3 linked regions of the Homo sapiens genome follow. The protein of the gene in region 1 interacts with the protein of each later gene in a pairwise test. Each region holds a gene or a part of one and is shown in the gene's direction. Other genes may lie near its edges. The genes, in order: SLC71A2, EXOSC10 and TMEM119.

Region 1 (3,652 bases):
TATTTTTTGTAGAGATGAAGTCTTCCTGTTTCCCAAGCTGGTCTCAAACTCCTGGGCTCAAATGATCCTCCTGTCTCAGCCTCCCAGTGCTGGGATTATAGGTTAGAGCCATGATGCTTGGCCTGACAACTTTTTTCTACCTTATTTGGCAAAGAGATATATTGACCAGAAAAAGATACTGGCAGAGAGATGTCATAATCTGAAAAATAAAAGAGAATCAAGTATTTACTCCAAGAGATCATTTCCTTCTAGAAAAGGGAGGTGTGTCGCCGGGCACGGTGGCTCACACCTGTAATCCCAGCACTTTGGGAGGCTGACGTGGGCGGATCACAAGGTCAAGAGATCAAGACCATCCTGGCCAACATGGTGAAATCCTGTCTCTATAAAAATATAAAAGTTAGCTGGGCATGGTGGCAGGCGCCTGTAGTCCCAGCTACTCAGGAGGCTGAGGCAGGAGAATCGCTTGAACCTGGGAGGCGGAGGTTGCAGTGAGCTGAGATCGTGCCACTGCACTCCAGCCTGGCGACAGACTGCACTCCAGCCTGGCGACAGAGCGAGACTCCATTTCCAAAAAAAAAAAAAGGAGGTGTATGTTAGCTGTTTGCGTTGCTGTAAAGGAATACCTGAGAATACCTGAGACTGGGGAATTTATCAAGAAAAGTGGTTCTTTAGGCTGTACAGGAAGCTTAGCACCAGCATCTGTTTCTGGTGAGGGCCTCAGAAAGCTTGCAATCAGGACAGAAGGCGAAGGGGAAGCAGCTTATCACGTGTTGGGGAGGGAGCAAGAGAGAGAGGGGAGGAGGTGCCAGGCTCCTTTTAGCAATGAGATCTTGGCCGCGTGCGGTGGATCACTTAAGGTCAGCAGTTGGAGACCAGCGTGGCCAACATAGTGAAACCCCATCTCTACTAAAAATACAAAAATTAGCCGGGTGTGATGGTGCATACCTGTAGTCCTAGCTACCTGGGAGGCTGAGACAGGAGAATTGTTTGAAACTGGGAGGCGCCACTGCACTCCACCCTGGGTGACAGAGTGAGACTCTGTCTCAAAAACAAACAATAAACAAAACCAATCAGATCTTGTGGTAACTAATGGAGCGAGGACTCACTCATTACTGTGAGAAGGACACCAAACAATTGAGAAGAGATCAGCCCCCATGACCCAAACAGCTGCCACTAGACCCCACCTCCAACACTGGGGGTCACATTTCAACATGAGATTTGGAGGAGACAGATATCCAAATGCTATCTGCCTTAAAAACAAATTGGATAGTTTGGTTTTCTATTCTGTGGAAGAATTTGTGTAAGATTGGTAATACAGTTCTAGAACTTTATAGTTCTTGGCCTTTTGGAGATTAATTCTAGAACAGCGTAGGTTTTCTGTTTGATTTTTAGTTCTGTCAGTTTCAGTAAGTTGTGTTTTGTTGGGAATTTGCCCATTTTATCTAAAATGTCAAATTAGTTGGCATAAAGCTGTGAATAATGACCTCGTAGGCTCTTTTCACCTTCTGTAGGGATTCTTGGTGTGCATTTCCTTTTTTTTTTTTTTGAGACGGAGTTTCACTGTTGTTGCCCAGGCTGGAGTGCAATGGTGTGATCTTGGCTCACTACAGCCTCTGCCTGCCGGGTTCAAGCGATTCTCCTGCCTCAGCCTCCCATGTAGCTGGGATTACAGGCTTGTGCCACCATGCCCGGATAATTTTGTATTTTTAGTAGAGATGGGGTTGCACCATGTTGGCCAGGCTGGTCTTGAACTCCTGACCTCAGGCGATCCACCTGCCTTGGCCTCCCAAAGTGCTGGAATTACAGGCGTGAGCCACTGCGCCTGGCCCTTTTTTTTTTTTTTTTTAAGAGGTGAGGCCTCACTCTGTCATCCAGGCTGGAGTGCGGTGGCGCACAATCATAGCTTGCTGTAACCTTAAACTCCTGGGTTCAAATGATCCTCCTGCCTCAGCCTCCCTAGTAGCAAGGACTATAGGCACGTGGCACTATGCCTGGCTAGTTTTTAAATTTTTTTGTAGAGATTGGGTCTCACTGTGTTGTCCAGGCTTGTCTTGAACTCCTGGCCTCAAGTAATCCTCCAGCCTCAGCCTCTCAGAGTGCTGGGATTATAGGCATGAGCCACCATGCCTGGCTGGTACTCTGCATTGATAACTTGTGCTTTGTCTTTCAAAAAATATTTAATTTTGTAGGATCTTCTGGATAAATATTCACAAATATTGCACGTGTTGATAATTTTATATCTTATTTTGATGTTAAATGAACTAGAATATCCAGGAAAGTATTCAATGGTAATGGTAAAAGTGCATACAACCTCCTCTACGTAACAGGAATACATTAATTTTTTCTTACTGTTAGGTATCCTTTTGGCTGTATACACGTAAACATGCTTTATTACCCTATGGAAGCATTTTTGAAATTTCTCAGTTTCAGCTGGACGCGGTGGCTTACGCCTATAATCCCAGCACTTTTGGAGGCTGAGGCAGGCGGATCACGAGGTCAGGAGATTGAGACCATCCTGGCTGACGCGGTGAAACCCTGTCTCTACTAAAAATACAAAAAATTAGCCAGGCGTGGTGGTGGGCGCCTGTAGTCCCAGCTACTTGGGAGGCTGAGGCAGGAGAATGGCGTGAATCTGGGAGGTGGACCACGCTTGCAGTGAGCAGAGATCGTGCCACTGCACTCCAGCCTGGGCGACAGAGCGAGACTCTTTCTCAAAAAAAAAAAAGAAATTTCTCAGTTTCTTACATGTGTTCTCTCTTCCCCTTTTCCTCTTCCCTTCCTCCAGTTCAGCATGTCATAGAACTTTCACAAGTGGTTATGAAATCTTAGATATGCTATGGAGAAAGAGGTTATGGCATAGCAAGAGCATTGTTCTGTGAGAATTGGAGAGAAATCTATTCTTAATGTGTATTTATTTATTTATTTTTGAGACAAGAGTCTTACTGTTTCATCCAGGCTGGAGTGCAGTGGTGTGATTATGGCTCAGTGCACCCGGGAACTCCAGGGCTCAAGTGATCTTCCTGCCTCAGCCTCCTGGTAGCTGGGACTACACGTACGTCCCATCATGCCTGGCTAATTTTTAAATTTTTATTTGTAGAGATGTGCTCTTGCTTTGTTGTCCAGGCTGGTCTCGAACTCCTGGCTTCAAAGAATCCTCCTGCCTTGGCCTCCCAAAGCATTGGGATTGCAGGTGTGAGCCACTGTGCCCAGCATTAGTCTGACTTTTTTATAGTTAGCTTTGTATTTGCTTGTCTTTTTTAAACAACCTTATTCAGTTTAATTGACATAAAATAAACTGTGTGTTTGGAGTGCACAGTTTTGTGTTGTGACATATCTATACACCTGTGAAACCATTATCATAATCAAGATAGTAAACATATTCATCACCCTCAAATGTTTCTTTTTACCTCCCTCTACACCTCCATTTCCAGGCGATAATTTATCTACTCTGTCACTATATATTGGCTTGAATTTTCTTCCCCCTTTTTTTTTTTTTGAGATGGAGTTTCACTCTTGTTGCCCAGGCTGGAGTGCAATGGCGTGATAACGGCTCACCACAATCTCCGCCTCCTGGGTTCAAGTGATTCTCCTGCCTCAGCCTCCCAAGTAGTTGGGATTACAGGCATGCGCCACCATGCCAGGCTAATTTTGT
Region 2 (3,652 bases), on another chromosome or scaffold:
GTTTTCAGGTCTTTCATGGTGCTGATTCAGACATAGAATGGCTACAGAAAGACTTTGGGTTGTATGTAGTAAACATGTTTGATACTCATCAGGCAGCACGCCTTCTTAACCTGGGCAGGCACTCACTCGATCATCTCCTGAAACTCTACTGCAACGTGGACTCAAACAAGCAATATCAGCTGGCTGATTGGAGAATACGGTCAGTTTGCTCTTACTGAGGAAATGTGGGTGGCAGAAGAAAGTGATTATTCATTAACCTGTCGTCCAGAGAGACCTGGGTTTGAGCCCTACCACGCTCATTGAGATGAATGGCATCAGGCTTTTCGCCAGGCATCTTCAGCAGCGTAAAAGTGGTAGGAAATTTTTTAATGCTAAGGTGGACTTTATGATGGGCTGATGCAGTTACACTGTGTTCCATGGAAATAGTGGTTGAAAAAGAGGTGCCGCACCAGTATTTGCCCATGCTGGTCTTTTGTTTGAAACTGGGATCTTTCTACCAGATGATTTTGTGTGTGTGTAAGATCTTCTGTAGGGATGATTGTGTGTGTGTGTGTGTGTGCAAGATGACCTTCCATAGGTGGGAAAGAATTCTAAGGGACACTGTTGTTTAGCTTTACACTGAGCGTTTTTTTGTGGCATAAGGTAGCAGTTTTGCCCCACTTCCTGCAGGCCTTGCTCAGCTTGGTCGTTTTCCGCTTGGTTGCTACCTCTCCGAGGTTGCACCTGTCATAGGAAGGTGCTACTGAGCTTTTTCAGGAATTCCACATGCCAGAATGCCAGAATTTCTTTTTTTCTTTTTTTTTTTTTGAGATGCAGTTTCACTGTTGCCCAGGCTGGAGTGCAATGGCGCGATCTCGGCTCACCACAACCTCTGCCTCCCGGGTTCAAGCAATTCTCCTGCCTCAGCCTCCTGAGTAGCTAGGATTACAGGCGTGCACCACCACGCCCAGCTAATTTTGTATTTCCAGTAGAGACGAGGTTTCTCCATGTTGGTCAGACTGGTCTCAAACTCCTGACCTCAGGTGATCCTCCCGCCTCCGCCTCCCAAAGTGCTGGGATTACAGGCGTGAGCCACCGCGCCTGGCCCAGAATGCCAGAATTTCTAAATATAAAAGTAAAATTACATTTGGACTGATAAAATCCAAATAAAAGATAAAAATTGATAAAATCTAAAAACCACTCCCTGTTACGGAGCCCTTACCCTGTGCCAAGCTCTGGGCTAAGTGCTTCAAGGATGTGGTCCTGTGTAGTCCTCACAACAGCCTATGAAGTACCTGGTTCCCATTTCACAAGTTAGGTGGGTCAGCCCAAAGAGGTTAAGGAACTTGTCCAAGGACAGACATCTGGAGCTGAGATTTGAACTCAGGACACCAGTGGCCCCTTTTCTACTGCCTCTTGTGTGTGTCCAGAGTAGCTGACAGTGCCCTTATTTTAACCACCGCATTACCCTGCCTCCAATTCTACCCAGCTGTTAAAATAATGGTTTATCATGTTAAAATGCAGGAAATGTTGGCATAACTGCAGTATTGACTATGAAAGGATCTTTCATATTGGAAGGGTCTAAGGAAGTCCCAGCACCCAAGGAATAGACAAATTGAATTGCTGTCCTTGGGGGCAATCAGTAAAACATTGTCCTCTGCAATTCCAGCCCTCTGCCCGAGGAGATGCTCAGCTACGCCCGGGATGACACCCATTACCTGCTATATATCTATGACAAAATGAGGCTGGAGATGTGGGAGCGCGGCAACGGGCAGCCGGTGCAGCTGCAGGTGGTGTGGCAACGGAGCAGGGACATCTGCCTCAAGGTACACCTCAGCCGCAGTCACACAGACCGCGACACTTGGGCTCTGTGTCTGGCCAGGTTCTAGTTCTTAGGTTTGCTCCTTACATTCATGAAAAGAGCCAAACATTTTCCAGAGCCCAGGGCACAATTTTGATTCCCGTTGATTTTGAATGTTCTCTAATACTTTGTAGAAATTCATCAAACCTATCTTCACGGATGAGTCCTACCTTGAACTCTATAGGAAGCAGAAGAAGCACCTTAACACACAGCAGTTGACAGCCTTTCAGCTGCTGTTTGCCTGGAGGGATAAAACAGCTCGCAGGGAAGATGAAAGTTACGGGTAAGGGATTAGAGGTTCTTTTAATACTTGTTTCCAGACTGAGGAGATCTAATAACAAGTAAATAATGGGCTTTTTTCTTTTGCTATGAAAGCTGGTTATTTCCCCTATGTGACAGCATCTAATGGAACTTACTGGCTGAATGTAATGTGTCCCCACCGTGTGTGTGTGTGTGTGTGTGTGTGTGTGTGTGTGTGTGTGTTTTTTTTTTTCCAGATATGTACTGCCAAACCACATGATGCTGAAAATAGCTGAAGAACTGCCTAAGTGAGTTTCAAATCTGATTAATATGTTCTGACTTTCTCAGTAGATCTGATGTTCTTCAAAATCAAGCTTTTCTGGTTGCTATTACCCAAGGCTGCTTACTCAGAGATTAATGCTCCAAGCTTGGAAGGTAGCAAGTTGAAGGAATATAGAATTTCTGCCCTCAGGCTGCCATTTAAGCACTAAAACTTCTGAACTGGAATCATTTCAATGATTATGCCTTAGTTTGAGTTTATTTTAAGTCTCTGAGCCTTATAGCATCTACTTGCAAGGGAAGAAAATGTCCCAGATTCTGTCATCTGTACTTTCTTCCAAATTAAAGCAGCTCATGATCTTAAACGTTTTGTGATCTTGATTGAAGTATAAGCAAGAATGAAAATCCACAGCCCGTTGGTTGCCCCCTGCGGAATTGAGAATCCACAGTGCTATGGCACTTACTTTCAGCTCTCCCTGATTGTGGGAGTCAGGCTCCAAGAGGGATCCACTTAAAGCTTGGTGTCGCAAAGAACACATGGAGAAGTTGGCCTAGGCTGGCCTGACATCAGTGTTTCCTTAGTCACCTACCTGTAGCTTCAGCTTAGGTGGCAGCCTGGCTTTACCCAGTCATTATTCTTATCTGGAAGCCTTTAAGGGCTGCGTTTCTGAGTGACAAGTTGAGTGTGTTCTTACTTGTCTTCAGGGAACCTCAGGGCATCATAGCTTGCTGCAACCCAGTACCGCCCCTTGTGCGGCAGCAGATCAACGAAATGCACCTTTTAATCCAGCAGGCCCGAGAGATGCCCCTGCTCAAGGTAAGAAGCTTTTCTGCGGCTGGGCACAGTGGCTCACGCCTATAATCTCAGCACTTTGGGAGGCTGAGGTGGCTGGATCATTTCAGGTCAGGAGTTCGAGACCAGCCTGGCCAACATGGTGAAACCCCGTCTCTACTAAAAATACAAAAAATTAGCCAGGCGTGTGGTGCACGCCTGTAATCCCAGCTACTCCGGAGGCTGAGGCAGGAGAATTGCTTGAATCCGGGAGGCGGAGGTTGCAGTGAGCCGAGATCGCGCCACTGCACTCTAGCCTGGGAGGCAGAGCGAGACTCCGTCTCAAAAAAAAAAAAAAAGATTTTCTACTGAAGGGTCCCAACTTAGCAAGCCTGTTTTTTTTTTGTTTGTTTGTTTTTTGTTTTTTTTAGACGGAGTCTCGCTCTGTCTCCAGGCTGGAGTGCAGTGGCATGATCTCGGCTCACTGCAACCTCCGCCTCCTGGATTCAAGCAGTTCTCCT
Region 3 (3,019 bases), on another chromosome or scaffold:
CACCCTGGACCCCGGCCCTCAGCCCCACATCGATGGGGCCCCAGCCCATAACCCTGGGGGGCCCATCACCCCCCACCAACTTCCTGGATGGGATAGTGGACTTCTTCCGCCAGTACGTGATGCTGATTGCTGTGGTGGGCTCCCTGGCCTTTCTGCTGATGTTCATCGTCTGTGCCGCGGTCATCACCCGGCAGAAGCAGAAGGCCTCGGCCTATTACCCATCGTCCTTCCCCAAGAAGAAGTACGTGGACCAGAGTGACCGGGCCGGGGGCCCCCGGGCCTTCAGTGAGGTCCCCGACAGAGCCCCCGACAGCAGGCCCGAGGAAGCCCTGGATTCCTCCCGGCAGCTCCAGGCCGACATCTTGGCCGCCACCCAGAACCTCAAGTCCCCCACCAGGGCTGCACTGGGCGGTGGGGACGGAGCCAGGATGGTGGAGGGCAGGGGCGCAGAGGAAGAGGAGAAGGGCAGCCAGGAGGGGGACCAGGAAGTCCAGGGACATGGGGTCCCAGTGGAGACACCAGAGGCGCAGGAGGAGCCGTGCTCAGGGGTCCTTGAGGGGGCTGTGGTGGCCGGTGAGGGCCAAGGGGAGCTGGAAGGGTCTCTCTTGTTAGCCCAGGAAGCCCAGGGACCAGTGGGTCCCCCCGAAAGCCCCTGTGCTTGCAGCAGTGTCCACCCCAGTGTCTAACAGTCCTCCCGGGCTGCCAGCCCTGACTGTCGGGCCCCCAAGTGGTCACCTCCCCGTGTATGAAAAGGCCTTCAGCCCTGACTGCTTCCTGACACTCCCTCCTTGGCCTCCCTGTGGTGCCAATCCCAGCATGTGCTGATTCTACAGCAGGCAGAAATGCTGGTCCCCGGTGCCCCGGAGGAATCTTACCAAGTGCCATCATCCTTCACCTCAGCAGCCCCAAAGGGCTACATCCTACAGCACAGCTCCCCTGACAAAGTGAGGGAGGGCACGTGTCCCTGTGACAGCCAGGATAAAACATCCCTCAAGGCTGGGTGTGGAGGCTCACACCTGTAATCTCAGCATTTTGGGAGGCCAAGTGCGGACATCACTTGAGACCAGGAGTTCCAAACCAGCCCTGGCAACATTGTGAGACCCATCTCTATAAAAACAAAAAACAGTCCACTAAATCAGCCACATTAATTGGGAATCATATGTCACAGGTCATTTGTGGGGCAAACATCACTGCTTTTCCATCAAGGGAGCAAAGAATAAGTGGGAGTTTTGGAAGAGTTTGGATGAGAGACGCCAAGGTGCCCAGCGTTCGTAAGGCAACATGCAGCCTGGCGTGAAGCAGTATTTTGAAACTGCAAATGGTTCCCTTCTTGTGTCCTTTCAATGCTGAATATTTTAGTGTCATTCTGCCTGTGCTCAGAGCTCCAGCAGCAGAAGTGTGTGTGGTTAATTAGGACACTTCTGTGAGAGGACCCCTGCACACATTACGACAGGTCCCTAAATGAGCATTTCCCAAACTAGGTTCCCCGAGGCACTCTACGGAAACAAGATTTTTTTTTTTGAGACGGAGTCTCGGTCTGTCACCCAGGCTGGAGTGCAGTGGTGCAATCTTGGTGCAATCTTGGCTCAGTGCAATCCGCCTCCCAGGTTCAAGCGATTCTCCCGCCTCAGTAGCTGGGATTACAGGTGCCCACCACTGCGCCCAGCTAAATTTTGTATTTTTAGTAGAGATGGGGCTTCACCATGTTGGCCAGGCTGGTCTGGAACTCCTGACCTTCAGGTGATCCACCTGCCTCTGCCTCCCAAAGTGCTGGGATTACAGGCGTGAGCCACCGTGCCCGGCCCAAACTACTTTTTAAAACAGCTACAGGGTAAAATCCTGCAGCACCCACTCTGGAAAATACTGCTCTTAATTTTCCTGAAGGTGGCCCCCTGTTTCTAGTTGGTCCAGGATTAGGGATGTGGGGTATAGGGCATTTAAATCCTCTCAAGCGCTCTCCAAGCACCCCCGGCCTGGGGGTGAGTTTCTCATCCCGCTACTGCTGCTGGGATCAGGTTGAATGAATGGAACTCTTCCTGTCTGGCCTCCAAAGCAGCCTAGAAGCTGAGGGGCTGTGTTTGAGGGGACCTCCACCCTGGGGAAGTCCGAGGGGCTGGGGAAGGGTTTCTGACGCCCAGCCTGGAGCAGGGGGGCCCTGGCCACCCCCTGTTGCTCACACATTGTCTGGCAGCCTGTGTCCACAATATTCGTCAGTCCTCGACAGGGAGCCTGGGCTCCGTCCTGCTTTAGGGAGGCTCTGGCAGGAGGTCCTCTCCCCCATCCCTCCATCTGGGGCTCCCCCAACCTCTGCACAGCTCTCCAGGTGCTGAGATATAATGCACCAGCACAATAAACCTTTATTCCGGCCTGAAGTCTCACCAGTTTTCTGGGGGGTGGGGGAAATGAGCCTGCTGGGGAGGGGCTCTTGCATGGGGATGGGGACAACTTTCTGGGGAGACACATCAGCCCAGTCCTGGAGGGTGAAGGGACAGATTGATGTGGGAAACAAAGGAAAGACCGGTGCTCCCGAGGAATGGGCTGGAACTCATGTCCCCAGGGGTGGAGCACCAGCTCTGGACTTGTGGCCACGCAGACCCAGGTTCCATGCCCAGCTCTGCCACTGTGGCCATGGGAGAGTCACTCACCTCTCTGTTTCCCCTGCAGGTGGTTGAGGACTGGGACGGGTCTCATGGACAATGCCCCCCTCACTGCACCCTTGGCCGGGATCGGGAGTAGGAGGCAGCCCTGGCCCTGCAGTCGGCCTCTGCCTTCTGTCTCCCCACCCACAAAACTCCTCTTGGTCTTTGATGGCAAGTTCCTGCAGCGACTTCTCCCCCGCACCCTGGGCCTCAGGAGCTGCCAGCTGGAATCCAGATGTGGCTGGGGCTGGGAGCATGTGCTGGGTCCCTGGGGCTGGGGGGCAGTGGGCCATCCCCTGCAGCCCCTCCCCTCCACCGACCCCACCTCCAGCCGGAGGGGGCCCCAGAGTTTTGGGTTTCATAACACACAATAGCCTCTG

What was found.
Region 2: the proteins of SLC71A2 (region 1) and EXOSC10 interact in a two-hybrid assay, tested with the Homo sapiens proteins (one large-scale study listed by IntAct).
Region 3: the proteins of SLC71A2 (region 1) and TMEM119 interact in a two-hybrid assay, tested with the Homo sapiens proteins (one large-scale study listed by BioGRID).

The regions. Positions count from the first base shown.
Region 1 is NC_000009.12:94,377,558-94,381,209, forward strand, and holds part of SLC71A2 (hippocampus abundant transcript-like protein 1), read left to right. Parts: intron 1-3,652.
Region 2 is NC_000001.11:11,079,235-11,082,886, reverse strand, and holds part of EXOSC10 (exosome complex component 10), read left to right. Parts: intron 1-8; coding exon 9-199; intron 200-228; exon of another isoform or gene 229-353; intron 354-1,648; coding exon 1,649-1,805; intron 1,806-1,974; coding exon 1,975-2,123; intron 2,124-2,337; coding exon 2,338-2,388; intron 2,389-3,064; coding exon 3,065-3,176; intron 3,177-3,652. UniProt on the Homo sapiens protein: Catalytic component of the RNA exosome complex which has 3'->5' exoribonuclease activity and participates in a multitude of cellular RNA processing and degradation events.
Region 3 is NC_000012.12:108,589,199-108,592,217, reverse strand, and holds the end of TMEM119 (transmembrane protein 119 precursor), read left to right. Parts: coding exon 1-686; 3' UTR 687-2,367; downstream 2,368-3,019. UniProt on the Homo sapiens protein: Plays an important role in bone formation and normal bone mineralization. Promotes the differentiation of myoblasts into osteoblasts.